Homo sapiens: one gene and its partners. The protein of the gene in region 3 interacts with the protein of the main gene of each other region in a biochemical or structural test. Each region holds a gene or a part of one and is shown on either strand. Other genes may lie near its edges.

What was found.
Region 1: the proteins of BLNK (region 3) and GRAP2 form a complex in vitro, tested with the Homo sapiens proteins (one study listed by BioGRID).
Region 2: the proteins of BLNK (region 3) and MAP4K1 form a complex in vitro, tested with the Homo sapiens proteins (one study listed by BioGRID).

Annotation. Positions count from the first base shown.
Region 1 is NC_000022.11:39,965,016-39,975,711, reverse strand, and holds the end of GRAP2 (GRB2-related adapter protein 2), read right to left. Parts: intron 9,723-10,696; coding exon 9,554-9,722; intron 7,671-9,553; coding exon 7,440-7,670; intron 6,302-7,439; coding exon 6,179-6,301; intron 4,808-6,178; coding exon 4,628-4,807; 3' UTR 1,991-4,627; downstream 1-1,990. UniProt on the Homo sapiens protein: Interacts with SLP-76 to regulate NF-AT activation. Binds to tyrosine-phosphorylated shc.
Region 2 is NC_000019.10:38,607,954-38,617,283, reverse strand, and holds part of MAP4K1 (mitogen-activated protein kinase kinase kinase kinase 1), read left to right. Parts: intron 1-1,024; coding exon 1,025-1,089; intron 1,090-2,838; coding exon 2,839-2,894; intron 2,895-2,991; coding exon 2,992-3,039; intron 3,040-3,198; coding exon 3,199-3,241; intron 3,242-3,331; coding exon 3,332-3,404; intron 3,405-4,541; coding exon 4,542-4,673; intron 4,674-5,978; coding exon 5,979-6,041; intron 6,042-6,151; coding exon 6,152-6,233; intron 6,234-7,258; coding exon 7,259-7,375; intron 7,376-7,609; coding exon 7,610-7,688; intron 7,689-9,113; coding exon 9,114-9,172; intron 9,173-9,250; coding exon 9,251-9,294; intron 9,295-9,330. UniProt on the Homo sapiens protein: Serine/threonine-protein kinase, which plays a role in the response to environmental stress. Appears to act upstream of the JUN N-terminal pathway.
Region 3 is NC_000010.11:96,197,067-96,207,762, forward strand, and holds part of BLNK (B-cell linker protein), read right to left. Parts: intron 9,988-10,696; coding exon 9,945-9,987; intron 8,226-9,944; exon of another isoform or gene 7,551-8,225; coding exon 7,466-7,550; exon of another isoform or gene 7,023-7,465; coding exon 6,991-7,022; exon of another isoform or gene 6,854-6,990; intron 6,563-6,853; exon of another isoform or gene 6,508-6,562; intron 3,993-6,507; coding exon 3,916-3,992; intron 3,093-3,915; coding exon 3,009-3,092; intron 1-3,008. UniProt on the Homo sapiens protein: Functions as a central linker protein, downstream of the B-cell receptor (BCR), bridging the SYK kinase to a multitude of signaling pathways and regulating biological outcomes of B-cell function and development.

The DNA of each region.
Region 1 (10,696 bases), on a different chromosome or scaffold from region 3:
ATGCTGGGTGTACAATGGTTTACAAAACAGAGGTGACCCCTGCTCCGTGGAGCTTACAGCTCCAAGTTCACTTGAACTTGGGAGGCAGAGGCTGCAGTGAGCTGTAATAGCCATACAGCTCAGTCTGGCACCATCATCTGTGTACGTGCTATTCAGGAAAAGCACAGGATTCATAAGACCATCTTAGGGGAAGGATTATTTTAGATTAGAGGGCAGGGGAGGACTGTTTGGAAGTGACATTTAAACCCAGACCTGGGCCAGGCATGGTGGCTCACACCTATATTCCCATCACTTTGGGAAGCCAGGGTGAGTGGATCACCTGAGGTCAGGAGTTCAAGACCACCCTGGCCAACATGGTGAAACCCTGTCTCTACCAAAAATGCAAAAATTAGCCAGGTGTGGTGACATGACCCTGTAATCCCAGCTACTCGGGAGGCTGAGGTGGGAGAATCACTTGAACTTGGGAGGCAGAGGCTGCAGTGAGCTGAGACTGTGCCACTGCACTCCAGCCTGGGCAACAGAGCCAGACCCCATCTCAAAACAAAAACAAAAACAAAAACAAAAACAAAAACAAAAAACAAAAAACAGAAAACAAAAAACCAACCCAGACCTGGAGATGAACAAGAGTTAGCAGGGTTAGCAGGGGATGTGCCTCCAGGTAGCAAGAATGGCAAGTGTGAAAGGTTTGGGGACAAATCCTTGGCCATTTGGAGGCTGAAAGGCCAGTGGGGCAGGAGCATAAAAGCAAGGGGCAGGGGAGGCAGAAGAGGAGGCTGAGGAGGGAGGCAGGGGCCGGACTTCACAGGGCCACATTAGGACTTTGGACTTAAGCCTAAATCCAGTGGGAAGGGGAGTGATGTGATCGGATTTATTTTTACAAAGATCGCTTTGGCATCTGTGTGGAGGACCAGATTACGGGAGAGAATGCAGGGAGAAAGGTATGAAAGCTGACAGTTGCCAAAGGAAGAGATGATGGTGGCATGGCCAAGGTGATGGAGTAAAGTGGAGGAACTGAGGAGGCATTTTTTAAAAAGCATTGAGACAATCAAGGTTTTTCTCACACACTTGCCTTGGTATAGAGGGGCTAAAATGTTGGCTTAGACAAGGCAAACAGTAAATATTTTGGCCATGCTAATCTGTCCCGAGTGTGGGCTGTTGTGTTTTAGGTTAGCTGGGAGCACAGTCCCCTGCCTCAACCAGGGCCACATCTGACCAGAGTCAATTTTATGACTGAAGATTTCCTGACAAAGCTTTTACAACTTCTGCAATCTCTGCTGATGTTTAAAATAATTACTATTAGGAAATAGTAATTATTATAGGAAATTCCTGTTTGCATTTCATCTGAATTCCTCTCACATTACATTTTTTTAATTCTAGAGATAAGGATGCTAAAATAATAAGTCACCTGGGTAGCCAAATATGAATGACGTCATAATGACCGTTCTGAATTGCATCTGTCCCAAAGCCAAAGTGACCTATTCGTTAGCAGCGAAGAAAAAATGGCCGAATATCCTCAGAAGAAGAGCCCAATTAGAGTTGTGCTCACTGCTAAGTTCTTTGCCTTTGCTCCTTAACATGTGGACCTAGCAACAGCACCCAGTAGCTTGTTAGAAATTCAGGACCAAGTTGGAAGCTGCATTTCAACACGGTCCCCAGGCAATTCGTAGGCACTTTAAATTTTGAGAAGCACCATGGTTAGATCACCCTAGGGCCATCTAAAAGTGGGTGGGCAGTGGCAGGTGCCAGATATTTGAAATGCGGTGAGGCACAGCAAGTGGTTAGGAAAACCCAACAACTGGTCCAACAGGACCTGGCTTTTCTCTGGAAGCTTCAAGTTCCCAAGTCACATAGAGTGTTGCAGCCAAACTCGGGGACAATGTGTTTGTTGGCTGCTGGTTCTGTGGCTGGTGAGAGGAGCTGGCTCAACCCTCCTCTGGTGCTGAAATGCTGTCAGGTAGAAACTAGGGCCCGTGGGGACACATGCGGAGGGGCTCCCCCTGGCAGCACCAGAGGCTGAGGGGGGTTGAGCTCTCTTTCCCCCTCCCCTCCATAATGTGGACAGTTTGGTTCTTGTCCTCTTTACCTGGCCGCTAAGAGCCCTCATTCCTTGTAGGTGGTTTGGGTGACTTTCCCGCTTCCTTCTGAATGGAGGCTGATGAGCAAGGGAAAGATGCTTTGGCATCTCAGTACAAAATACTCTTCAGTAGCTTTTGCTACAACAGAACACCGAGCTCCAGGGGTTCTGAAAGCTCTGCTCATACCGCCTGCCTACGGGGTCAGCTCCTGCAGGCCGATGACCCCTGTCACCCCCTGGTCTCGTTCTCACTCTCTACCTGAGGGGTATGCAACGCAGACACCAGACACGGCCTGGCCAAACAAGGACACTTTGTTTTATTACTGCTTTCCTGAGAAGCCTTTCAAGGCACAAAGTCTCCACCAGAATCGAATCACATACCTCCGTCTAACTAGAGCTGGTCCTCCCACATCATCAGACAACTGGATGGAGTTTGTGGGCTGTTTAAAGCATATGGTTTGTAAATACTGTAAAATCAAACATTACTTATGGCTTTTATTTACTGCAGCATTTCACATTACCTAGCACCAAAATAGCTGAGGAGGTCTTCTCTGCCTTTGTTCTTTCTCCTGTTCTTTTCCTTATGCTTCTTTGCTCCCTGCCTTCCGCAGCAGCGGTTTCTCTGCTCTGATTCTTCCTCTCCCCACTGCCCAGCCCTCCTCCTGCACCATCTGCCCACCAACTCCACACCGTTCTCTTCCCTGGCCCCACTCACCCTCTCCCTTTCCTCCCCCTGTGCCTCTCACGCTGCCCCTTGATCCTCCTGGATGTCTTAGCTACCTTTCCCTCTCTCTGCTTTCACTTCCAAAAGCTGCAGGTGCTCCTTACTCACACTCGACTCCCTCCTGCCTCCACCAGGCTATTTTCTTTTCCCTCCCAATACCCACCACAGAGTTCCTTTTTTCCTCTTTCCTCTAAAGGAAACATGAGGATCAGAGAACTGTAGAATCACAGTCACAAGGGACACTGCTTGTGCTACACTGGCAGTCACTTCTGAGTCAGAAAATCTTTCTTCTCCGATCACCTTCAATAACGGCTGCCCCCAACCCCATCCCTCCTTAGAGCAAGAGAGGTTGGGGAAGAGAAAACTTCCAGGCTCCCTCACCAACACTTTCACCCCCTTTCCTGTCTCAGCACACACACAGACACACAGATGCATGCACGCACATGTCCACACATGCAGGAATGCACACATATGCATACACAAGCACACATGTATACACACAGGAGTGCACAAATATGTGCGTGCAAGCACACATGTGCACACCTGCAGGGGTACACACCCATACCCACAAACTCCGAGTGCACTTGGTGCAGAACGGGTTTGCACCCGGCCTCCCCTAAGGCCCTGAGCTTCCTCTCTACTGTCTCCTTCGCCCCTGGCCAGGCTGACCTGTGCTGTGCACCTCCAGAGTGAGCCCTTGGACACATGATTCTAGCGTGATGGGATGGAGAGCGACAGCCATGGTGGGGTTCCTTGCTCCAGGTGCAACTCTTGGGCAGCAGGAGGACAGCAGTGGTCAGACTGAACAGGAAGCTGGTGTCAAAGCCAGCTTCCACCTGGGGTCATGTTTAGTCAATCAATTCATAGTCAGGCTCCTATCATCAAGTGGGCTTCTTTCCATGCCACTGGGCAAGGCATCTTCAAAAGAGAAAATCAAGAGGGAAAATGAACAGAGCCCTGAAGACATACCCTTGTAACCATAAAACAATGACTGTAAAATTCAGCATTCTCAGCTAGAGCTTCTTCAAGCACTTTACGGAATGTAGGATGCTATTTCCTTCATAGCTGGGGAAACAGAGGTTCCACTGAGTAAGCTGCTTGGGGATTGTGGAAAATCCCTCGATTTCCCAGTACTTCGCTCCTCACATTGAAACATTCATTTGAAAGACCCAAGGAATATTAATTTGAACAGAGATGAATGTCTCAGCTAGGTGTTGACTAGGAGGCCAGCCTTGCACAGGCAGGGTCTCTCCAACCCCGTCCTGCCTTCACATCCCCGCTCAGACTCGCTTGGCTGCCCGCAGCACTGGGCTGCACCTTAATTCCTAATGCAACAGTGCCCACCCCTTGGAGAACAGGAGGAGAGCTGCTCTGCAAGCCCTCCAGGTGAGCGGGGCTTGCAGGTCAGCTAGAACGTGCCCCACCAAGTTCAACCCCACCCTGTTGTTCTGTGTCCAGTGCCGAGGTGTGGTCTCTGCTTAGCTGTTCTCCGTGAAAATTCCCAAGACAAGGAGGAAGCAGTGACAGCTGAAGGCCAGGACAAAACTCCATTTCATTTCCCTGCCCCCCTCCCAACTCCCCCACTGCCTTCCACACACCCCTGAGGGGGGCAGAAAAGCAAGTGTCAATATTATTCTCCACCTGAGTTCCCTTTTGCATCAACTAATTACCAGCCCAATTGCCAATAAATTACTAGTATAAAAAGTTGTGTGTGTACACAGGCAGATGTAGATAGATGTATGTATATATAGTCATGGAGTCCAGCCTTTTTTCCTTGCCCTCTTTCTTGTGGGCAGCTCCAGACAAAAAGCTTCTGTCCCCTGAAGAGTTTATCGGGTCATGGGTGCCACGTAGTTGGCAGGGAAGAGGCCCAGCTTGTTGTGCAGGCGGCCGGTCCACCAGGATGGGTTGGAGCTATCCAGGACCTCCACCACCTCCCCGCTGTGGAACCCCAGCTCGTCATCCTCCAGGGCCTCAAAGTCATACAGCGCCCGGGCCCACCGCACTCGCTGTTGGGGGAAGCACAGAAGAGGCTCTGCTGAGCTGTGGGCTGGGCAGGCAGGGGAGGGTCTGCTGGCTCCTCCCACCACATCCAAGTCTTTGAGAGCAACATTCCCTGAAGGCTGACCCCTCTGCAGCTTAAAAAAACTTTTTTTGTAGAGATGGGGTCTTGCTATGTTGCTCAGGCTGGTTTTGAACCCTTGGCCTCAAGAAGTCCTCCTGCCTTGGCCTCCCAAGTAGCTGGAACTACAGGTGTGAGCCACCATGCCCGGCTACCCTGCTGCAATTTAAATCAGATACCTATGCACAGGCCTGAGCAAGAAGTTCCCAGAACGCACCAGCGTCACTCTGGAGACCCAGGACTTTTACCAACAGATGTTATTGTCCAAAGCCCCAATAGACTCCCTGAGAACCACTCTCTCCACATCAATAGGTGGTATTTTTATCTTGAGTGACAAACAGAAGGGCAACATGCCCCAAACAACAGCCCTTGGTGTTAGGGCAATCAAGTCACAAGTCAAGATGGATCACAGGCCAGGCACGGTGGCTCATGCCTGTAATCCCAGCACTGTGGGAGGCTGAGGTAGGAGGATTGCTTGAGCCCAGGAGTTCCAGACCAGCCTGGGCAATATAGCAAGAGCTTATCGCTACAAATAATATACCTAGCTACTTGGGAAGCAGAGGCAGGAGGATCGCTTGAGCCTAGGAGTTTGAATCTGCAGTGAGCCATGATTGTGCCACTGCACTTGAGCCTGGGAGACAGAGTGAGACCCTGTCTCAAAAAACAAAAAAAAGATGCAATGATAAAGGCAATGGTAAAGGACTATGATAAAGATGATAAAGAACTAGAACTGAGAACTATGAGAACAGGGAAGGCCTGGCACCAGACTGAGATCAACAGACTGGACGGTGCTGGCTCAGCCCCAGGCCTCCCCAAACATTCCATCACCTCTCGTTGATCTGTGTGTGCATTTTTGTTTTGTTTTGTTTTGTTTTTTGAGACGGAGTTTCGCTCTTGTTGCCCAGGATGGAGTAAAATGGCGCAATCTCGGCTCACTGCAACCTCTGCCTCCTGGGTTCAAGCAATTCTCCTGCCTCAGCCTCCCAAGTAGCTGGGATTACTGGCATCTGCCACCATGCCTGGCTAATTTTTGTATTTTTAGTAGACGTGAGGTTTCACCATGTTGGCCAGGCTGGTCTCGAACTCCTGACCTCAGGTGATCCACCTGCCTTGGCCTCCCAAAGTGTTGGGATTACAGGTGTGAGCCACCGTGCCCAGCCAGATCTGTGTGGTTTGAGTCTCTCCTGCCTCATCTCCTCCATTGACCTCTGTCCCAAGGCCTTTCCCCAGGGATCCCAGAGAAGGACAGTTCCCATACCCCTGCCGCCTGGAGCTGCACTGGGTCTGTGTGTCTCCGATGCATGAGGGCCGCATTCATTTCACTGCCCAAGCCGGTGCCACAATGCCCATCATTTATGTCAAGGCTGCCTCCTCGGCGTTCCTAGAAACATACAACAGAAGACTGGTCACCCCACTGCCAGGACATCTCCCACCGGTTCCCCCAGTGCCTTGCTCAGATGCCATCCACAGAGCCGGTATATTCCAGGAATACTTACTGATAATGACAATAAACCCTCCACGTTGAGGAGGACCTAAGGTCTAAAGGCACCTTAGATTCTGAAGGCAAAGAAGGCAAAGGCAGGTTTTATTTATTCAGTCAAGAAATATTTATCAGGCACCTACCATGTTTCCAGTAGCAGACACAAGGGAAATATAGCTGGAAAGAGAAGGTCTCTGGCTTCATGGAGCTTCCATTTAGAGGGGGAACCATGCACATTTAAGTGGTAAGTGAGCAGAGAGAAGAAATGTCTGTATCTGCCCGGGAAATCAAGGAAGGCTTCACAGAGGAGGTCATGCTTGAACTCCAGCTTAGAGGGGTAGGACTGCCCAGGGAGGGGCTCATCAGGCAGAGAGATCAGCATATAAAACGCCACAAAGGCATGAGAGGAAACGCAATGGACCATTCGGGTAACTAAGGCAGCGTGGGGGGTTGCTGGAATGTGTGTTTGCACGGGGAGTTGGCAGGGAGGCAGCAGGGACGAGGCTGGGGAAATAGATTCTGGCAGCTCACAAAGGACTTTGTGTGCCCTGCTAAGGAATTCAGGAATGATGTTATCTGGCCGTATTGTCCATCTCAGTAAGCCGCCTGAAATCCCATCGGGAACAAGGGTGGAGGGAGATAAATAAGTAATAAACAAGGCTCTGTTGTGGGTATTAAGCCTTTTTCTCTTGTGGATCTGACAGCCAGATGGGCTAAGGGGCATGAATAGATTTGGAATTGTGCTGATAGGAAAATGAAGCAATTGTTTACTGGGTCCTCAGGGGAAGTGTGTGTGTGTGTGAGTTTAAGTGTGTGTGTGTGTGTGAGACAGTGTGTGTGTGTGTGTGTGTGTTCAGGTGGGAGCCATTTAATTCATAGAGATGTCTTTGCCAAGAACAGTTTCCCTATTTCTGCCATTTGGGGGGGTCCAGGGTCTTCATCATGAACTCTCTGAGAACTCAAGAGGCTGGGCCAGGCCTGGAGGGGAGGCAGGTTCTCCTTTCCACCGTACTGTGCCCACTGCCTTCTTTCCAGATACCTGGTGGAAATGGTGGTGCTGCAGATATCGCTGCTGTGGGGGCTGCTGCAGCTGCTGGGGCGCTGGGGCATATTGCGGAGGCTGTGGCTGGTGCTGGTGCTGCTGCAGGGGAAGGGTCGGGGGGTGATCCGACAGCTTCCGGTTCATCGAAGGTCGGATTTCTTCTCCCACAGCCCCACTGAGGTGTGGGCCTCCCTGGGACCTCCGGTCCAGGCTGTTGCCCCGGTGACCCTGGGAGAAAGAACAGAGATGCTGCAGATGCATCCTCCTCTCTGATCGTCTGGCCCTACCCTACCCTCGGGCAGTTGTTCCCAGACCCTGCTCATCTGGCTCCAAGAAATAGCTGGTGGGGTGGGGGCAGCTAAAAGATAATTGATGCTTTAGACCTTCACATTTTCCAAAGTGGCCTCTGCATTCTCAGATCCTCCCAGTTTTAGGAGTGCAGGTCTCTGGTTCACAGACTAACACTTTTTGCCTGGTAGCCATTTAGTCCATTTCCAGGGCGCTCGTTTTTTCTCTGTGTAATCAAGCTGAAATATTCCATTTTACTGATACAATGCCACCCCTTCTTATCACATGTTGCCACACCACTGGACAATCTACCCTCCAGATAAGCTCCACTGTTGACTTTGCATGATTTTGAACTGTCATTTACAGCCTGGTGATAGAGACCCAAACAGCAACATTCTTGCAACACCATGGGAACCAGGCCTGCCGCCGGGCTGGACGTGGGGGAAGAAGTAAGGCCTTTTTCCCTAATGTTACAACAACCTTACAAATCAGAAATACCGTATTGTTAGTTTCATTTAACAAACAATTATGTAGGACCCTGAGGGCAGCATATACCAGGCACTGTTCTAAGCGCTTTACAAATATCAACTCATTTAATCCCATTTAATGCAATTTTATATTGCTTCTCTGAATGCCCATCCTAGTGAGTTAATACCTCTGTCCGTTTCCTGGTTAGAGTGATTCACAAGGTCTTGGCTAGCCTTTGTTTTCCTTTCTGAACTTCTGTGTGCATTTGGTGGTAACTTCTTTTCTCCTTTGGCAGTAACTTCTCAGGCTTAAAAGCAACTAGGGACTCGAAAAAGGAGGATTTTCTTGACTTCCCCAAAGCACACATTGCTTTCACAGTCTCAATATCTTTTCAAATAACCTGTCCCTAGGATTTCAGCTATTCTAGTGAATGCTTCTTCCTATGATACCTGTCTCTTATAACCATGTTATTTCCTTTGAAAAATAGTTCATAAATTGGTGTGTGTGTGTGTGTGTGAGTGTGTGCATGTGTGAATTTACTTATGGGAGGCAAGTTAACATGTTCTTAGTGTTTAATATGGACCAGACTCTGGTAGTGCTTAGCTGTATTAAGTCATTTAATCCTCACAACAGCCCAGTGAGGGAGGTTTTATTGCTCTCTCCATTCTACAGATGAGAAAACTGATACTCAGATGGTTTCTTAACTTGGCTAGGTAATACAGGTAGCTAAGCGATTAAAGCAGGATTTCATACCAGGTCTGTCTGACGCATTTCCTTTTAAAGCAATAGTCTGTATTGCAAACAGTTGCAACAGCAATAATTCCAAGTGCAGTTTTCTCCTCCCATGTCCTCCCTACCCCCAATCCCATCATAAAACTCCACATGCTGATTTAACTCCTGAACTCTAGGCTGTTCCCTAATGTCCCTGTCTGTAGCACCCCCAACTCCTTCATCCTTGGGCAACTCTTGAGCTAGGTTGAAAACTTTGGTGTAGCAATGTCTATGAATAACAAAAAAACAGCACCTGTGGTAAGAGCTGATGCTTGCTGAGCGCAGTGTGATGAGGAATGACATGAGGCGTGGGATACATTATCTTCTCCAACCTTCACAGCCATTCTGGGAGGTAGATATTACCATTGTCCCTACTTTATGGATGAGGAAACTGAGGCGCAGAGAACTTTCCAAAGTCACACGACTAGGAAGTGTTAAGTTGAGATCTGACCTCAGAGCTCTGAGCTCTGTCTTTCAGTATACTCAGAGGATCTACCCATCCTATGCATTTTTCCTGGTGGTTCATGTGAGAACTCAGGCTGCCTAAAATCTCTAGATTGGGGTCGACTGGATCTGGAGCATACCTGGTCTTCTCGGGTTCTGTCTCTAAGGAAGATCTGCTTCTGTCTGGAGATGGAATTTGTCCTGTAGTAGTCTACCAGCTTATTTAGGGATGGAAACTTCTCAGTCCACAGAAAGTAATTACCCTTGTTGTCTCGCATGACCTTGAAGTGTTGAACGTCATCCTCATGCCTGGAGATCAAGGCAAAACAAAATTGTATGTTACACGGTGATAATGTCACCACCTCCAGGCTGCTCACATCTGGGATGGTGGAGTTCTCTTTGAGCAGGAGATGTAGATATGGATGACTCACTCATCACTGGGCAGGTGGGCCAGCCCAGTCAGGCTTCGGCAGGAACTTTGTAGGATGGACCACTTAGGATACAGGCTATGCTAGACGGGATTTACATCAGCAGAAGGTAATCAGATGAGCTAAAATTTGTTTTGGACACTGGAACTAACCTTTTACAAGAAAAGCATGTTCCAAGTGACTTAACGACAAAGAGATCAAAGACCTTTTCACAATGTTTATTCGCAAGATGTCAACAGGGGTATTTCAAGCTCCTATTATCTTTCTGTTACCAGAAATTCTTTGAACCATCTCCTTTAAGCCCATAAGCTAGCACTGGCAGGTAAGAAGCTACTCTCTTTCCTAAGAAATATGTCACATTTTTTCTCTATGTAATAAGGATCTCTTGATCTTGGTTTATGTTTTGCATAAATAAGGTTACAAAGTGTTTTCAGCTTTTGGTGAAATAGCTTTGTATGAAATACAGAGTTTTTGTTTGTTTGTTTGTTTTGTTTTTTTGAGATGGAGTCTCACTCTGTCGCCCAGGCTGGAGTGCAGTGGTGTGATCTCTGCTCACTGCAACCTCCGCCTCCCAGGTTCAAGCGATTCTCCTGTCTCAGCCTCCTGAGGAGCTGGGATTACAGGCACCCACCACCAAGTCTTTAGTAAAGACGGGGTTTCGCCATGTTGGTCAGGCTGGTCTTGAAGTCCAGACCTCCGGTGATCCACCTGCCTTGGCCTCCCAAAGTGCTGGGATTACAGGTGTGAGGCACTGCGCCCTGTGAAATGATAGAGTTTTAATTGGCAAGGATGTTGGAGATTGTTTAGCCTTACTTCTCCATTTTACAGATGAGGACACTGAGGCTCACAGAGGTG
Region 2 (9,330 bases), on a different chromosome or scaffold from region 3:
GTACCCTCAGTTCTTTTTTTTTCTTTTCTTTTTCTTTTTTGAGATGGAGTCTTGTTCTGTTGCCAGGCTGGAGTGCAGTGGCATGATCTCAGCTCACTGCAACCTCTGCCTCCTGGGTTCAAGCAATTCTCTGCCTCAGACTCCCGAGTAGCTGGGATTACAGGCGCTCACCACCCTGCCCGGCAAATTTTTGTATTTTTAGTAGAGATGGGGTTTCACCATCTTGGCCAGGCTGGTCTTGAACTCCTGACCTTGTGATCCACTCGCCTCGGCCTCCGAAAGTGCTGGGATTACAGGTGTGATCCACCGCGCCTGGTCTTGGCACCCTCAGTTCTAACCTTGAACTTCCATTTCTCACCATAACCCGACCTCCCATCCTGGACCCCCATTTTTGACTGGGCTAACCCTACCATGATCCTCACTCCTAAGTCCCACTTTTCTGACCAGAGCAGCCTCTAATCTAATCTCCAATCTAAAATTCCCATTTCTGACCAAGAGTACCCCAAATTGATCTCTTCATAGTAACTGAATTTGAAATCAACTCCCTTGAAACGAAGCTCTCACCATTCTGCTCTTTGGCTCACCCAGTTTCACTCTCTGCTCCTTTAATATAAACTCCTAAATTCCCTGATCCCCAAATTAATATTCCAGATGCCCCAATAATGACCTCTGCTCCCCAGAACAGGTGCCCTGGGCCCCTCTGTCCCCTCCAAATCTCCACAACCCGTGAGATCTCTGCCCTGCCTCCTAGGTTGGCGTGGGACGGCAGTGGGGTCCCGCCCAAAGGCCTAGGTTTGAGTTGACTTGCCCCGGAACTCACATTTCCTCTCTGAGCCTTAACTTCCTTGTCTGTAAAATGGGAATGAAACAACCTCACTCTGGTAGACAAGGAGAGGTGGAGTGATGAGAGCTGTTACGTTAAAGTTCTTATTGAACTAGAACAAGACAGAAGCAAACCAGGGGCTTTCCTGCAAATAATAATGTATTTACTGCTATTATTATTCTTACTCTTGAACCACTGCAGGTTGCAGAAACTCTGGATCTGCATGGAATTCTGTGGGGCTGGTTCTCTCCAGGACATCTACCAAGGTTAGAGAAAGGACAACGGGACCCAAGCACCCCTCCCTATCCCCACCCCCCAACCCCGACCCAAATTCACCTCTTCCGTCTCTGTGTGTGTATCTCACAGGAACTGTCTTTCTGGGCCATATTTCAAACTCCTGGGCTGAGCTGATCCTCTTGCCTTCAGCTGTCGAAGTGCTGAAACTACGGGCTTGAGCCACTGTGCCTGGCTTTTTTTTTTTTTTTTTTTAATATAACTGCTGGGCCTGGTGTGGTGGCTCACGCCTGTAATCCCAGCACTTTGGGAAGCCGAGGTGGGCGGATCACCTGAGGTCAGGAGTTCAAGACCAGCTTGGCCAACATGGTGAAACCCCGCCTCTACTAAAAATACAAAAAATTAGCCGGGCGTGGTGGCAGACGCCTGTAATCCCAGCTACTCGGGAGGCTGAGGCAGGAGAATCGTTTGATTCTGGGAGGCGGAAAACCTCTGATTCCTTCCAGCCCTAGACCTCAAATGTTAGAAAAGGAAGGACGTCATTGAGAAGTCCTCAGGAGGGAAACTGAGGCCCAAAGAGAGGAAGTGAATCCCACAGCTGGTCTGTCAGACCTGATGTCTGACGGCCTCTCTCTGTCTGTCTGTCTCTCTGTCTCTCTGCCTGTGTGTTGTTCTTACCTCGTTACCCTCTGGGTCTCTCTCTAAATCTGTCTGTCTCCCCATATTTTGGCCTCTGACCTCTGTCTTTGTCTTCTGTCTCATTTTTTTGTTTTTTTCAATCCTGTTCCTTTTGTATGTCTCATGTATGATCTGTCTCCGTTTCTCTGTCTCTCTCTGTCTCTGTGCCTTTCCTTATTTTGCAAAGTCACATGACGCCCCTGCTCAGAGCCCTCCTACAGCTTCCATTTCTCTCGGAGGAGAAGCCCAGACTCCTCATCAGGGTCCACCCCATGCTGGCCAATCTCACCTCCTCCCACTTTCCTCCTCCCCCTCCACTCCACCCCACCCCCTTTGCTGCTTTCCAGACCCACCAGGGACTATCCCACCTGGGGCCCTGCACTTGCTGTGGCTGGTCCCACTCAGAGTGGGAGCCCTCATGTCTTCACCCACTGTCACCTTCAGAGAGCAGCCCTGACTGACCACCTCTGTGAAATGTCATAGCTCCTCCTACGCGCACCTTTCTTGCTTTATGTTTCTTCTTGCTGTCTATCAGCGTCTGAGGAACTATATCATATTCTACTTATTTATCTTGCTTACTTTCTTTCTTTCCTTCTTTCCTTTTTTTTTTTTTTTTTTTTTTTTTTTGAGACAGAGCCTCCTTCTATTGCCCAGGCTGGAGTGCAGTGGTACGATCTCGGCTCATTGCAACCTCCACCTCCTGGGTTCAAACGATTCTCCTGCCTCAGCCTCCTGAGTACTTGGGATTACAGGCATGCACCACTATGCCTGGCTAATTTTTGTATTTTTTAGTAGAGATGGGGTTTCACCATGTTGGCCAGGCTGGTCTCGGACTCCTGACCTCAAGTGATCCACCCACCTTGGCCTCCCAAAGTGCTGGGATTATAGGCATGAGCCACTGCGCCAGGCCTATTGGCCTCTTTTATTTGCATTGCTGCCTCTTTCTGTCACTGACCACCCCACCATCTCCCCCTCCCACTGGTCCTATCCTATTTCCCCTCTCCCTATGGCACCCTCTTAGCTGGTGTGGGGGGGCAGGACTCCCCAGCCCAGGTTCCCTGGCTCCCATCCAATGCCTGGCCTGGCCGGGGTGACCTTTGCAGTGACAGGCTCCCTGTCAGAGCTCCAGATTAGCTATGTCTGCCGGGAAGTGCTCCAGGTAAGGAGAGGCCTGGGGATTCTGGGGATGGGAGGGGAGGGTGGCCCCACTCCAGCCCCCAAACACTCACTGTCCCCTTGTCCACCCTTCTCCCCAGGGACTGGCCTATTTGCACTCACAGAAGAAGATACACAGGGACATCAAGGTGGTCTGGGGGTGTAGGGGTGCTGTTGGGGGGTGGGGCCCAGGAGATGGGAGTGGCATTTCAGGGGCTCAGGGATCAGGGTAGTTTGAGCTGGCGGAGTGGGCTAGCACTGGGCTGGGGAGAGTCTCTGCAGCCTCCCATATCCCCTCTCATTCCCAGGGAGCTAACATCCTCATCAATGATGCTGGGGAGGTCAGATTGGGTGAGTAAGGCTGGGGGTTGAGCAGGGGGGCTGACTGGGGGGCCGGAAGCGCAGTGGACCCCAGATCACTATGTCTCCCTCTGCTTCCAGCTGACTTTGGCATCTCGGCCCAGATTGGGGCTACACTGGCCAGACGCCTCTCTTTCATTGGGACACCCTACTGGTGAGTGGCGCCCAGCGGGCAGCTAGGGGTGGAGTGGGGGTCAGTGGTTTTTCCTACCCTGGTTCCCCGGGATCCTCTTTCCTGGCTCCGTTCCCCTGCCTCGTCCTTTCTCCTTGGAAGATTCTTTCATTCTCTCTGGGTGTCGCTTGAGTTTTCCATTTTCCTCTCTCTTTGTGCCCTTTTCTGGCCATTGCTCTCGGTGTTTGTGTTGATTTTTATCTTGATTTCTCTGTCCCTCCATATCCATTTCTGTCTTTTTCCTCTAGCTCAGTTTGCAGTGCTCTCTGTCTCTTTGTTTCTGTCTCTCTCACTCTCTGTCTCTGCCTCTCTGTCTTTTCATTTTGTTTTGTTTTTAGAGACAGGGTCTCACTCTGTGGCCCAGGCTGGATTGCAGTGGCATAGTCACGGCTCACTGCAGCCTAGAACTCCTGGGCTCAGGAGATCCTCCCACCTCAGCCTCCCAAGTAGCTGGGACCACAGGTGTGCACCATGACACCTGGCTAATTTTTAAAATTTGTGTAGAGATGGTGTTGTTTTTTTTTTTTTTTCTTTTTCGTTCTTTTTTTTTTTCTTGAGACGGAGTTTTGCTCTGTTGCCCAGGCTGGAGTGCAGTGGCATGGTCTCAGCTCACTGCAACCTTCACCTCCCAGGTTCAAGCAATTCTCCTGCCTCAGCCACCAAGTAGCTGGGATTACAGACGCCTGCCACCACGCCCGGCTAATTTTTGTACTTTTAGTAGAGACGGGCTTTCACCATGTTGGTCAGGCTGGTCTCGAACTCCTCACCTCAGGTGATCTGTCCGCCTTGACCTCCCAAAGTGCTGGAATTACAGGCAAAAGCCACCGTGCCCAGCCGAGATAGGGTCTTGATAAGTTGCCCAGGCTGGTCTCAAACTCCTGGGCCTAAGCCATTCTCCTTGCTCAGCCTCCCAAAGTGCTGGGATTACAGGCGTGAGCCATCGCGCCCCGTCTGCATCTCTGTCTTCATCTGCCTGTGTCTGTCTTTACTCCTGTCCCTCTGTCTCTCCATCTGACTCTCTGTGTGCTGCGTCTCCCCTCAACTCCTTCTCCTTCTCTGCCCCTCCTTCCCTTCCTGTCCCCATGCCACCTCTGGCTCTCTGAGCGTGTCTGCCCCCAGGATGGCTCCGGAAGTGGCAGCTGTGGCCCTGAAGGGAGGATACAATGAGCTGTGTGACATCTGGTCCCTGGGCATCACGGCCATCGAACTGGCCGAGCTACAGCCACCGCTCTTTGATGTGCACCCTCTCAGGTAGGCAGGCGTGGGGTCCCCAGGCCCAGAGATCCTGTCTAGCCCTGGCCCAAAGCCCACCCTCAGCTTCCGCCTTCCATCCCAGGAACCTCCAATTCAGGGATCACCACTTGAGCCTACCTTTGCACGTGCTGCAGCTCTATTTTTTAAATTTAATTTAATATTTTATTTTATTTTATTTTTTATTTTTTAAGACAGAGTCTTGCTCTGTTGCCCAGGCTGGAGTGCAGTGGCACAATCTTGGCTCACTGCAACCTCCATCTCCTGGGTTCAAGCTATTTTCCTGCCTCAGCCTCCCGAGTAGCTGAGGCTGCAGGTGTGCACCACCACGCCCGGCTAATTTTTGTATTTTTAGTAGAGACGGGGTTTCAACATGTTGGCCAGGGTAGTCTCGAACTCCTGACCTCAGGTTATCTGCCCATCTTGGCTTCCGGAGGTGCTGGGATTACAGGCGTGAACCACTGCACCCAGCCTATTTATTTATTTTTATTTTTATTTATTTATTTATTTTTGAGATGGAGTCCCACTCTTGTTGCCCAGGCTGGAGTGCAGTGGCAAGATCTCAGCTCACTGCAACCTCTGCCTCCAGGGTTCAAGTGATTCTACCACCTCAACCTCCCAAGTGTGGGATTACAGGTGCACGCCACCATGCCTGGCTAATTTTTGTATGTTTTGGTAGAGACGGGGTTTCACTATGTTGACCAGGCTGGTCTTGAACTCCTGACCTCAAGTGATCCACTTGCCTTGGCCTCCCAAAATGCTGGGATTAAAGGTGTGAGCCACCACGCCCAGACATTTTTTAAATTAATTAATTAATTCTTATTATTTTTAGAGACAGGATCTGGCTCTGTCACCCAGGCTGGAGTGCAGCGGCACGATCGTAGTTCACTTCAGCCTTGAATGCCGGGGCTCAAATGATCCTCCTGCCTTAGCCTCTCACATAGCTGGTCCTACAGACCCATATTGCCACACCCAGCTATTTAAAAAAAAAATTTTTTTTTTGTCTCACTATGTTGCCCCAGCTGGTCTCCAACTCCTGGGCTCAAGCTATCCTCCCGCCTTGGCCTCCCAAAGTGTTGGGATTACGGGCGTGAACCACCACACCTGGCCTTGCCATAGCTCTATCACTTCATAAATGGCTTCCCTTAGGAGAGGCACCCTGGTGCACTGTAAAACCTGAACCTCACTTCCATGCTGTTTCTCACTTTGCCCTCTGCTGACCACAATGCTACTAGGAACCCCTCAAGCCATGAGGTCTGGCCCCCTTGAGGGTCTGAACCCCATGTCCTTTCCCTACTATTCTAGAGTTCTCTTCCTCATGACCAAGAGTGGCTACCAGCCTCCCCGACTGAAGGAAAAAGGCAAATGGTACGAGAGAGTAACAGGAGGGAGGGTGAGAGAGGGCAGGGCTGGGGCTGGGTGGCCTGATGGGAGGGTTTCTGGTCCCCTCATCCAGAACCTGGCTTCTTCTTCCCAAGGTCGGCTGCCTTCCACAACTTCATCAAAGTCACTCTGACTAAGAGTCCCAAGAAACGACCCAGCGCCACCAAGATGCTCAGTGTAACCCTCCCTTCCCCAAGATCCTCAGCCTAGGATTCCCTGGGGCCTTCCACAACTCCCGAGGACATGGATAACTTTGTTCCATGGAGTCCCCGTGGCCTTTCCAAAGTCCCTAGTGCCTCAGAATTTCCCAGGACCACCCCCGACCACCAGAGACCCTCCGGGTTATACCCCAGACCTTTCCCAAATACCCCGAGTTGCCGGAACTGACAAATTCCCAAAGGACTCAAGACTTGTCCTGAGTGTCCTCTTGAATCCCCAGGGAACCACAGTCTCTTCCAAGACAACTCTGGAATTCTCCTAGCCCCGCTCTGAGAAACCTAAATTCTTCTAATTCCTAAAAATGTCTTAGACTCCCACCGGTCGGCTGGGCATGGTGGCTCACACCTGTAATCCCAGCACTTTGGGAGGCTGAGGTAGATGGATCACTTGAGGTCAGGAGTTTGAGACCAGCCTGGCCAACATGGTGAAACCCCGTCTCTACTAAAAATACAAAAATTAGCTGAGCATAGTGGCGCACGCCTGTAATCCCAGCTACTTGGGAGGCTGAGGTTGGAGAATTGCTTAAACCCAGGAGGCGGAGGCTATAGTGAGCCAGGATCGTGCCACTGCACTCCAGTCTGAGTGACAGGGCGAGACCCTGTCTCAAAAAAAAAAAAAAAAAAAAAAAAAAAAAAATTAGCTGGGCGTGGTGGCACGAGCCTGTAATCACAGCCACTCGGGAGGCTGAGGCACGAGAATCAATTAAGCCCAGGAGGTGGAGGTTGCAGTGAGCCTGGATTGTGCCACTGCACTCCAGCCTGGGTGACAGAGTGAGACTCTGTCTTAAAACAAACAAACAAAAAAGAATACCCCAGGCCTCTGAGTTCCCTGGATTTCCCCGCCCTCTGCCTTCACTGGCACCTTCTCCCCAGCTAGATTCCTTTAGTCCAGTCCCCAAGGCCCTGTACCAGTCCTCTCTGTCCACACCAGCCCTCTCTGTCCACACCATCCCTCTGGATACGGACACCTCTTCCCTCCGCCAGCATCAACTGGTATCCCAGCCTGGGCTGAATCGAGGCCTGATCCTGGATCTTCTTGACAAACTGAAGAATCCCGGGAAAGGACCCTCCATTGGGGACATTGAGGATGAGGAGCCCGAGGTGAGAGCCTTGGCTGACAAGAGCACTGGGGACCTCTCGGTCTTTCTCAGGCTGTGCCTGCTGCCAGCAGTGCCTTCCTGCTGCCTCTCTTAGGGGGAAAACAGGGAGGGAGGATGGGGAGCTTGGTAAAAGGCTGTGTGCCCAGAGGGTTACAGGAGAGAGCAGATGGACCCCGGGCAGGGTAGGAGGCTGCTTGGGGGTCTTGAGCCCTGACGTGGCTGCCCCTCTGCCCAGCTACCCCCTGCTATCCCTCGGCGGATCAGATCCACCCACCGCTCCAGCTCTCTGGGGATCCCAGATGCAGACTGCTGTCGTGAGTAGAGAATCCTTATGTTTGGGGACACCTGACCCTATAATAGACCTAAGAGACCACCTTCCCCTACCATCAGGCCTCCAGAGACCCTCAGCATCATCTGATCCTATAAGAGACCCCAGACAATCTCATCAGCACCTGAACTACAAAATGACCGTAGAGGCCAGGCGTGGTGACTCATGCCTGTAATCCCAGCACTTTGGGAGGCCAAGGTGGGCAGATCATCTGAGGTCAGGATGTCAAGACGAGCCTGGGTAACATGGTGAAACCCTGTCTCTGCTAAAAATACAAAAATTAGCCGGGTGTGGTAGTGCACGCCTGTAGTCCAAGCTACTTGGGAGGCTGAGGTAGGAGGATTGCCTGAACCTGGGAGGTGGAGGTTGCAGTGAACCAAGATTGCGCCACTGCACTCCAGTCCAGGTGACAAGAGCGAGACCGTCTCAAGGACAAAACAAAACAAAACAAAAACAAAAGCAAAATGACCATAGAGTTCCCAGGGAGACCTCAGAAATCTCATCAGAACCTCAATACCCAAACGGATCCTGAAAACACCCTGTAACTACATTGAGCCCCCAACTTCCTGATCCCAAAACTTATTTATTTGTTTATTTTTTTGTGACAGGATCTTGCTGTGTCACCCAGGCTGGAGTGCAGTGGTGTGATCACAGCTCACTTAAGCCTCAAACTTCTTGGGCTCAAGGAATCCTCCCACCTCAGCCTCCTGAGTAGCTGGGACTACAGGCTTATTCACCACGCGTGGCTAATGTTTTTTTTTTTTTTTTTTTTTTTTTTTTTTGAGACGGAGTTTCACTCTGTCGCCCAGGCTGGAGTGCGATGGTGCGATCTTGGCTCACCAAAACCTCTGCCTCCTGGGTTCAAGCGATTCTCCTGCCTCAGCCTCCAGAGTAATTGGGATTACAGGCGCATACTACCATGCCCGGCTAATTTTTGTATTTTTTTTTAGTAGAGACGGGGCTTCACCATGTTGACCAGGCTGATCATGAACTCCTGACCTCAGGTGATCTGCCTGCCTCACCTCCCAAAGTGCTGGGATTACAGGCGTGAGCCACTGTGCCCAGTCACTTGGCTAATTTTTAATCATTTTTTGTAGGGATGGGTTCTTGCCCAGTTGTCCAGGCAGGTCTCAAACTCTGGGTTCCAGCGATCTGCCCACCTCAGCCTTCCAAAGTACTGGGATTATAGGCGTGAGCCACTGCACCTGGTCTTGATCCCAAACTTGACCCCCAAATGAAGTCCCTGTAATCCAAGACCCCTTTCCCCAAGGGACAGTTCCCTGAGATCATTTGCAGTCCCCAAGATCCTGACTGCAACCCCCCCGCCAATTCTACTCTTTCTGTTCTTAAACCCATCTCGTTACCCCTTGCCCCCAGCTCACAGCAGGTTATCTTCCCCCACCCACCCTAGGGCGGCACATGGAGTTCAGGAAGCTCCGAGGAATGGAGACCAGACCCCCAGCCAACACCGTGAGATGCTGTCCCCCCACTCCCCACCACACCGCCTGCTTCCCTGAGGCCACTGCTGACCCTTTTCCTACCCCACAGGCTCGCCTACAGCCTCCTCGAGACCTCAGGAGCAGCAGCCCCAGGTCAGGGACCCCAGGGAGGATGGGGAGGGGGCTGGA
Region 3 (10,696 bases):
TTTAATTTTTTTTAAAAAACATAATTATGGTTAGTATTACTTATATTTCTACAGGTTCAAAAAATCATTTTGTGAAGAACACCTATATTACATTCCAAAGGTAAATTATTTAGCTACATTATTTTTATTATTGATTAGCGCTTGTCTTCTTATTTTCTAAGAAAATAGTCCAGGAAAATATATACTCATAGAAAATCCTGAGTGAGATCAATGCTTGCCTTTTTTGAAAAAAAGGTAATAATTAATTAATTATTTTTAGAAACAGTCTCACTTTGTTGCCCAGGCTGGTGTGCAGTGGTGCAATCACAGTCCACTACAGCCTGGAACTCCTGAGTTCAAGCGATCCTCCCACCTCAGCCTCCTGAGTACCTGGGACTACTGGCATGCACCACCATGCCCAGCTAAATGCTAGCTTTTTAATGTGCTAAATAAGGTTTTATGTTTATAAAATTTAGAAATATGTGAAGGGACACATTAAGATCAAATCTAGAGGACTCTCTTGAACTGGGAACCATAGCCACCAGTTGTCTATGAAAAAAAATGTATCAAACAAATTCCATTCATAAGTACTATAAGAAGAAAACAGAGGTTGGGAATCAAAACTTTCATTTTATATTTGCCCCTGGACTAAAATCTTGGGTCAGACTGACCTCATTATGAAAATTCTCTCCTCAAAGAACTTTTATAAGAAAAAAAATCCCTAGCCGGGCATAGTGGCGGGCACCTGTAGTCCCAGCTACTCGGGAGGCTGAGGCAGAAGAATGGCGTGAACCCAGGAGACGGAGTTTGCAGTGAGCCAAGATCGTGCCACTGCACTCCAGCCTGGGTGACAGAGCGAGACAACATCAAAAAAAAAAAGAAAGAAAAAGAAAAAGAAAAAAAAATCCCCAAACTGTAAGACAGTAATTCAAATTTTATTAAATTTTTTAATAAAAATATTTAGAATCATAAAATAAAAAATTACGAACAAAAGATGGACAAAAAGCAGAATGAAATGCAACAAGAGTTGATCAAACTCAGGAAACAAACTGAAGAAAAAGACAAGCCTATCTCAACAAAGAACAAATTATAAGATGTCCAAGGGACGAGAGCTTCAAATGAAGATTTAAGAAATGACACTTGAAGGAAGGTGTGGAAACAACCAGGAGAGAAAATGGGATTTAATAAAATAAGTACCATAGAATCAAAGACAGTGATGGGAGAAAAAATGACAAAAAAGATCCAAAACGCATGTAAATTGAGTGCTTGCAGAAGAAAAACAAATAAGGGAACAGAACAACCCTTTAAGACTATGATCTAAGAAAACTTATTGGATATAAGAGAAAACTTAAATCTACGTATTGAAAGGGCTTCTGTCTACTTGAGAAAATTGATTTGGAATTATCAACTCAGAGATATATTCTGGTAAAATGATTAGACTTTAAAAACAAAAAGTCTGCAGAGCCACCAGACTAAAGTATCAAATTACATAGAAGGGCAAGAAAGTCACATTGGTATCAGACTTCTCAAGAGCTTCATACAGAACAACACAATCTAGTGGAGCAACACTTTTCAAACTCAAATTAAGGATTTTATAGCCAGCCAAGATTTCTTCCAACTACTAGGATATGAAAAAACAGTTTTTTAACTCTCTTTCTCTTTTTATTCCCCCACAGCAGTCTCACTCTTGTTGCCCAGGCTGGAGAGCAGTGGCATGATCTCGGCTCACTGCAACTTCCGCCTCCTAGGCCCAACCGATTCTCCTGCTTCAGCCTCCGGAGGAGCTGGGATTATAGGCGCCCGCCATCACGCCTGGCTAATTTTTTTATTTTCAGTAGAGATGAGGTTTTGCCATCTTGGCCAGGCTGGTCTCAAACTCCTGACCTCAAGTGATCCACTCACCTCGGCCCCCCAAAGTGCTAGGATTACAGGCATAAGCCACTGCGCCTGGCTGAGAAAATAGTTTTGAATATAAAGGAACTCAGGGAATAATGTAAACACGATTTTTCCTCAGAATCTACTACAGGTACACTTCATCAAAGGAAAGAGACAATGGTGGAAGTCCACCAAAGGACTGACGGAACACACTAATATATTTACTTGTAGAGCTAGGACTAAAACAAGGGTGAGGAAGAACAGTATGTAAATGCTATATATTCTGACAAAGTGGAGTGCAAGAAAACAAAGAAAAAGAAAATGGGAGGAGAAGAGAGAAAGAAAAAGTGTCACTTTAATCTTGAATTGTCCAAGCTGTCCCTGGTGTTCCTACATGATTGAAGTTGGGCTCTCCAAACATTTACTTCCAGGTATTTTTTGTTTGTTTGTTTGTTTGCCATCTTGACTCAAATTTTTAATCCTGCACATTGATCCAAAATAGCCTGTCACTGTTCACTCCTCAGTGGAGCTCATGCAGCACCAAGCCTTCCATAGACCTCCCCTGGAGCTTTCTCGTCTCCCACTGTTTGGAGGGCAGTGGAGGCTGTGGGTCCTTGAGGAGATGAAAGGACAAGTAGAAATGAGATGGAGGAACTTGAAAGAGAGGAGGGGATAGCAGTTTCTCTTGAGTAAGTAAAGGAAAAAGATCCTTGTATCTACACTTGTTGCAATTATTTAATTAGCATATCATAAGGACGACAACTGTGTCTATTACAGGCTGAGGGCAAAACGTGTGATTTAAAAATGATCAGACCTTGGCCGGGCGCGGTGGCTCACGTCTGTAATCCCAGCACTTTGGGAGGCCAAGGCCGCCAGGCAGATCAACTGAGGTCAGGAGTTCGAGAGCAGCCTGGCCAACATGGTAAAACCCCGTCTCTACTAAAAATACAAAAATTAGCCGGGCTTGGGGGCACACACATGTAATCCCAGCTGCTTGGGAGGCTGAGGCATGAGAATCACTTGAACTTGGGAGGCAGGCAGAGGTTGCAGTGAGCTGAGATCGAGCCACTGCACTCCAGTGAAACTGCATCATCTCAAAACAAATAAATAAAATAAAATAAAATAAAAATAATAAATAATAAAAATGATCAGACCTTGTTTGATCTGTGCAATGCCTCTTCAGCAGACTTTCGATCACAGGCTCCAGCATACCATGGCTTGCAGAGAACGCCAGCTTCCTGTGAAATGGAGGGCACTGGTCAGCATGGGATGGTCCCTACTTAACTCTAATTTCTGTGTACTAGAAACAAAGACCCATTTGCATTATCAAGACAGGCCTCTACATTTACACCAATAATTTTAAGATGAGTTTTATTTTTCCTTTGATCAAACACAAGGATTATACCGTTAACTTGTTTTTTGTATTTTTTTTTCATTTGGCCTTAGCTAGGTTCCTGAATTATTTCTTTCTTTCTCCTAAATAAGTAATAATCCCCCTTTCCATTGTGCTCTTATTGCTCTTACTTTGTGGAGTGCTTTACAATTTCCAAAGCATTTTTACAAATATTATTTTATTTGATTCTTGCAAGAAAGGATATATGCCTTCTTTGAAGGCAAGAAGGACACATGCTATTATCCGTATTTTACATTTTTACATATATTTGTATGGAAACTTAGAAAGACTTGCCCAAGGGCACACAGAGTCCTTTCTCTGTCCCTTTATAAACTGTGCTGTCTTATATGTGATTTAATATCATCAGCCTCTACAGATCTATTTGGAGGAAATTACAAAGTTTAAATAAAATCTATGTGAGAGGAAGAATAATGAAAACACATTTCCTTGCTAGTTTTGAGGAAACATTAACTGGAGCAATGTCTTAGTCATTGAAAAAAAACAACAACTGGGTATTCTGTCCCTATTACCAAATGACAGTTCACATAATGATGTAAAATACAGTCTCTGTTCTCAAGGTTCACTCCAAATGTCTTCTTCTCAGAAGACATGCTCTTTCCTGCAGTTTCCTGGTAACAATTTAGTGACATCAAGAGTTCATTTCATACCTGTTCTGAAATAGTGGAATTAGATGAAAAGCTGGGTAGGGGCCCATCCACAGTTGGGTTTCCCCCTTCTGTAAATCCTGAAAGGGATCAGAAAAGTCCTTCAATTAATCTTCATATTTCTTGAACTCTTTCTATGCCTATCCCCTAACACTGTACTAGGTGCTGCCAGGGACACATCCACCAAAAAAAATCCTTAAGGCAATGGTTCCAAAAGTGTGGTCCAAGGACCCCTGGAAATCTCGAAAATCCTTTCAGGTGGTTCAAGAGGTCTTTTCTTTTTGAATTACCTATCACTATGAAACCCAATTTTCCTCATGTAGTTCCACCAGAAAAACATTGCAACAGATGAAATGTAGAAACAGAGATGAGAATCCAGCAGTCTCTGTTATGTTGCAGTAACATACATTAAAGAGATTTACAAAATGTAAACTAATGCCACTCTTTTCCCTAAATTGTTTTTGTTTGGAAAATATAGTTATTTTTCATAAAAATATTATTTATGTTAACATGTAATGAGTTTAATATTATTTTTAAATGGATTAATAAATGTTTTAAATGTCTCAGTTTTAATTCTTAAAATACTAGGTATCAATAGAAACATGTAAACCAAAGCTCTTTGGGTCTACAATTATTTTAAGAGTGTTAAAGTGGTTCTGAGACCAAAATGTCTGAGAATTGCTGACTTCAGGCATCAACTCCCTCAAAGAGTTTACAGTCTAAATGTGGAAACATGTGAAATACGAAAAAGACTTATCTGCATTCATTCATTCATTCATTCATTCATTCATTCTTGTTTCTCTGCCATGGATCAAAGGCATTGGGGATATACAGCAGTTAACAAAACAGCAAAATGCCCTGCTCTCCTGGAACTTAAATTTTAATGGATTGAGATGGGCAATAAAGACATAAGTAAAAAATATATATATAATGTTAGAGGGTCATAAATGCTATGAAGAAAAATAAATCAGGAAAGGAAGAATATGTGGGTGAGATCTGCAGGTGGAGAGGGAGGAGGCACTGGACATCCCAGGAAAGAATGTCCCGGGTAGAGGGAGCTGTGAAGGCAAGGCCTGGCATATCTAAGGAATAGCAAGGGTGCCACTGTGCCTGGAGTACAGTAAGAAAAGGGGAGAAGAGTAAGAGATACAGTCAGACAGGAGGCAATGAAGGGACCAGATTTATAGGACTTGGTGGACCCTTAACATGACTCAAGAGCTGTAATGAACATGATAAGGGAAGCTTTTGGAGGGTTTTGAACAGGGGGGTAACATGATCTGCCTATGTTTTAACAGGGTCATTCCAGCTGCTGGGCTGGAAACAGAGGGTGGCAACAGCAGAGTGGGGGAGGCCAGTTCGGTGTTCTTGCAGGAGATGACAGTGACTTGGACAGATCACAGCAGTGGAAGCAGTGAGAGTGGTTGGATTCTGGATCTATTTTGAAGGAATAGCTGGAAGGTGTGTGAAGAAAGCAAGTGAGAAGTCAAGGGTGACTCTAAGGTTTTTGACAACAGCAACCAGAGTTGTCCTTTATTAAGATGGGGAAATCTGCAGGAGAAAGAATTCTGGATAAACTAAGTGCTTCAGATAATAGTGCCCTGGATGTTTAGAGAAGGCAGCCACCATTGTAAGAGGAGGGGGCAGTGAGGGCTTGGCAGGCCCAACAAAGATGGGCCAAAAGGAAGGATGTATTCTAATAGGAGGGGAACAGCACTCCCAGGTGAGAGCAGCAAAGGTGAGTGAGTGAACAGACTTTCCCTAGGTGCACAGTGCAGGGCAGTTTGTGGTTTCTGCAGTTCTGGCAGTTGGAAGAGTACCCATGGCTAATATTTTCTGACACCCGAATGTGCTAGGCCTATTCTGTTTTCAACATGCGTGCATCTCGTCCTTTCACCAGCTCTTTGTGGAATGAGCTATTATGCCCATTTTATAGAACAGGCCTTCTCAGACCATCCTGTCTACAGCAGCAGCCCTCCCTGCCTCCGTTACTCTCTGCCACCCACCCCTGCTGCTGCGCTGTATTTTTCTTTATAGCACTTCAGCATTTACCTGATATGATATTATTTGTGCGTTTATTTTTACTCTCTGTCTCCTTCAGTAGAATATAAGTTTCATGAGGACAGGGTCTTTATTTGTTTCGTTCATCCTTGTATCTCCTGTGCCTAGAACAATGCCTGGCACACGGCATATGGTCACTAACAACTGAATGAATGACTTGGTTTGAAAAACGGTAAAAGGTATAATAAACCTTTTTAAATAATGAAAAATAAATTTCTGTAGCCAAATCATTTTCACTTTGTGTTGTCAGAATTTTTTTTAAAAACTAGTAAAAGTTTCATTTATTTAAGATGAATATTATTAAAAATTTAAAAAGCCAATTTATGTTTAGTAAAAAAAATGCATAAAAATTTTGCATGTGGACAATTACTGTTTATTTAAATGGATTTAAGCTTTATTATTTTGGAATATATCCCAAATTATCTATGTAAAGCAGAGTTTTTTTCTTCCTTTTTTTCCCACATTGAGTTGCAGGCAAATTAAGGTTTGGGCAGTTACGTTCTGTGAGCCTGACTTATCCGATTCATATATTTTTAGGGTGATGTTTGCCTTGGAAAAATTATCCAGATATTTGCCGTATCTTCTTTTTAAGGTACCTTTTGTAGACATATTTTGTGATCTTTAAAATATATTTTGACTTAATTTAAATCGGTATTATTTGTTTAGAACCAAACACTATAGCTGGTGCTTCCCATATGTTGTTTTACTTGATCTTATTATTTTGAAAACAGCTGTATTGTTTTTGTAAAAAAAAAAAAAGTTAAAAAAGGATGCATGATCAGTAAAATATTAAATCGCTACTAAAAAAAGTAAAAATTGCCTCAAATATATTTACTTTTCAAAACAACTCTGTGAAATAAACATTCTTGGCCCCATTTTACAGGTAAGGAAACAAGTGGGAGAAGATGCCAGGATAACGCAGCTGGAAGCGACAGTGCTGTGTTAGAACCCAGGCCTATCAGACTCTAGGATCCAGCCTCGACCACTCCCTGATACACTACATGGCTTCGTTGTACTTACTTGGCAGAGGTATGGGTTTTTGGTGGATTTGTCTGCAAGAAAGAATTTCAGATAATTAAAGGACAAAGCACAATATGAGTAAGTTTGACTTTTTGTTTACACTGATGATGCTGTGAACAGGCACATCACAAATAAATCAATACAAATGGCCAATAAAATGTATCTAAAGATAAAAGAGCCACCAAAACCTTAAAGATAAGTAAGACTCTTCCTTTTAGTTTTGAAAAAGGAGGAAATCTTGACTAAAGTATTGTATTTTAGTCAAGTTCAATAATTAACCCAATTAGTAGGTCTCTGCAACTCTACACAGTTATTTTAAAGTTGCTCAACACCTTTTAACACGTAACTGCAAAACAATGAAATGTTGGATTTTTACCTAGCACTGCAAGTCAGTGTCACTGTGCAGTGAAACAATGCACATGTTAATTCCTGCAGCAACAAGAGGAAACTGATCTTTAAAGGAAAGGATTCTTACTTCTGGGCAGGAGGAAACACTGGTGACTGCACAGCTTCTTGTCTGTGACTTGACCCTCGGTGGCGTTCAGCAGGTATAGGTTTTTCTGGATCAGGAAAATTATCATATTAGGATTAGAGTGAAATGTCTGTCCTCATCCCAAAACCCAGCAACATCAGCTGAGAAGAACCAAATTTGATCAGAAGTCTTCCCGGGAACATGTCTTAGTTACTGAGATGTCATGGATCTGTGCACTTGCCAGTCTGTTGATGTGGTTGTGCTATGAGGACCAGGACTCCCTCCCAGCAGTGTTACAGGTACATCCTACCACCTCTGCATTCATCCACTGGCAATGTACATAGAGACTGAACCCACGGGCCCTGAAACTTTAAGTGTGTGAGTATAGGTGGAAGCCAGAAGATGAGAACATTTTAGCCACCCTCTAAACAACTCACCCTCTACTTGCCATGTGGCCTCCACACAGGTGGAGACAACACCCTGGTGGGTCTTGATTAGTCATAAGACGTGGTATAAGCAGTGTGTTACTGATAAGAGGCACACTACTGAGTTCATAAATGATCTCTTTTTGCAAAATTAATTGGATCAAATTCAAGGTTATCCCTATAATAATGTAAATCTCACTTGCATTTCAGTGTTTTCCTGAGCAGAAGAGGAAAGGGTGGGAAATGAGCATAAACCTGAAGTGTAAGAAATTTATGTTGAAGCCCATAGTGAACTCTACTGCTGAACCATTAATAAATGTGATCACACATTATTTTAATACTTTACTCTCCCTCAAATTTGTCGTTGGGGGGTGGGGTGTGTTAAAATCTTGGTATGTTCATGTGTGAGTCTGCATGGAAGAAAGGCTGAGAACTACAGAAACCCCAAAGAAATAAAAGTAGTAAGAACTCAAAGATTCAAATAAATGGTAAGATAGACGTCAGGGTTTCTTACCATTCAGTGGTGCACTAAAGCTTGGAAACCTTGAACCTCTGAAGATTGTATTTTGAATTTGTGGCAAGCTACTTCAAACCTCTATGTTAGATGTTTTGCTCATGACATTAAAACTTGGTAATTTCAGAAGGAGAAACAATGAACACCTTAGGTCTTGCCAGCCTATAAGCTTTGACTACACCTGCTCTGCCTCCGCCATCCTGATTCCTTCCTAGGCTAGTAGAGGCCACTCACTCACTTTGCATTTGGATGGTAATTGCCTATGCTCTTGAAATAAATAACAAAGGAGGGGGCATGCCTGGCAGGCTCCTGTACTGGGAACCCTTTGAGAATGAGGACACCTAAGCAGCAGTGGACATGCCTTGGGCCCTGCTTCTTTCCTGGATTTTGGAGGCTCTTGTAGCCATGAAGTCTGCACAGGTTGTACTTACTTCCTACAGATGCTCAGAGCTCCTGAAGTCACTATCACTCCACAACCTGGACTCAGCAGGTCTGAGAGGCTGCAAGGAATGGAAGTACAGAAAAGACAAAAGCCTCAAAGGGAAGGCAGAAGAAAGCAATACAGCAGAAAAGGGGTGATGCCTCAGAAATAGCCTAGGGAAGCAAGATATGGGAGACAGGATGAAAAAACCTAATGGCGTCATTAAAGCAGAGAGGTGAGTTGTAGTGCATGCTCAGAAAAGATCCACTGTCCATCATCAGAGAAAGGAGAGTGCTTTATGTAGATATACGCACATCAACTCAGGGAAGAGGGAGAATACTCACTACATTTTTAACCCTGGGTATCTTCAAGTATGGAATTAAATGGGTACAGGGCATGAACTTCTATATAATGTTTTAAGTGCTGATATTATAGATGATTCTTCTATTTTTTTCCGGTAATTTCCAAACACAATTTTTTTTAACATGAGCAGTTTCTAAAAATATATATAAGATTTTTGAGTGATGATAAAGGAAGAAATTCTAAATTACTCAGGAGGCTGAGGCAGAAAGACAACTTGAGCCCAGGAATTTGAAGCTGCAGTGAGCTATAATTATGCACCACTGCACTCCAGTCTGGGCTACAAAGTGAGACCCTAACTCAAAAAAAAAAAAAAAAAGGAAGAAAAGCAATTGAAGATGTACTAAGAAGACAGACAATTGAACTTTGAAAACATTATCTTGAAAACTTAGCAAAAGAACTTGTTCAAATAAACAGATTTTTAAAGTTTTCATTACTTTAAGTAAGCTATTAGTTCTAAAACATGTGAATGGCTCTACGTTAGTTTTCACATTTATGTAAGGTCCTAGCACTATTGCCTGGCAAGTCATATCTGTCTGCCAAAAGGCAGGTTTTTGCATGCATTCTGTAGCCTACTCTAAACATGCTGAGGTTCTGAGCTAGTTTTGCTGTTCATTGCTCATTGCAAAAACTATTTTGTTTAGAAAATTGAGTTTCATGTTTACAATTGCCCCAAAAATAATGTAATAAATGTGTACATACAAATCCTTAATAAAATAACTTTTAGAGGACATGCTCATCCTTCAAAATAATAGATTTTACCTTCACAAACACTTGAAGCATTCTGTTGAGAGGCAACTGGAGTCTATGTAAAAGAAAAAAAGGCAAGGTTATTCAATATAGCAGAATGTGGAAATAAATGTCAGAGCAATATTATTAAAATAAATATTTTGGCAGCACTTTTCTTTGATGCATTGCTATTCTTTCAATCACAACAACAATTACAAACCCACAGTCCCTAGCCCAACCTTTGCATTAAGCAACAAACAGCCAGAAGTGTCCTATGAAGGAGCAATGTCACTGTGGTGGAGAAACCTCCCTGCCTTGTCAACAGGGTTGATGGAAATCATGACCCCCCCAGCAGCTGCCACATAGTAACCCATGTACAGCAGGCATCTGGCATCTGCTTTGGTCTCATGACCCCCCCCTTCTGTGTGTTTGCTAAATGATTGTAAATGTCAGGCTTCACAGTAGGGACTAGGTCCAGGTGGGCTCCCTTATGTAGTGTTGTGGCCCAGGTTCACCATGTTCTGGCCAGAATCTGAGTTTAGTGAGGCCTATGTGTGCCTGATACACAATGGTCTACCATTAGCTGTGGTGGGGAGTGGACACAGACGCTTCCTGTGGAGAGGGCAGGGAACCTGGCTGCCCCTCTGATCTGCTGCGCACACTCAGTGAAGCTGCTGGGATCAAGTGAGGATGAGCTCCTTCTATGCTCCAGGGAGGAGCATCCTCCCTGGCTACCTGAGGATTTGAAGCTTCTCTTGGACTGCTTGGGCAGCAACTTCAGTTGC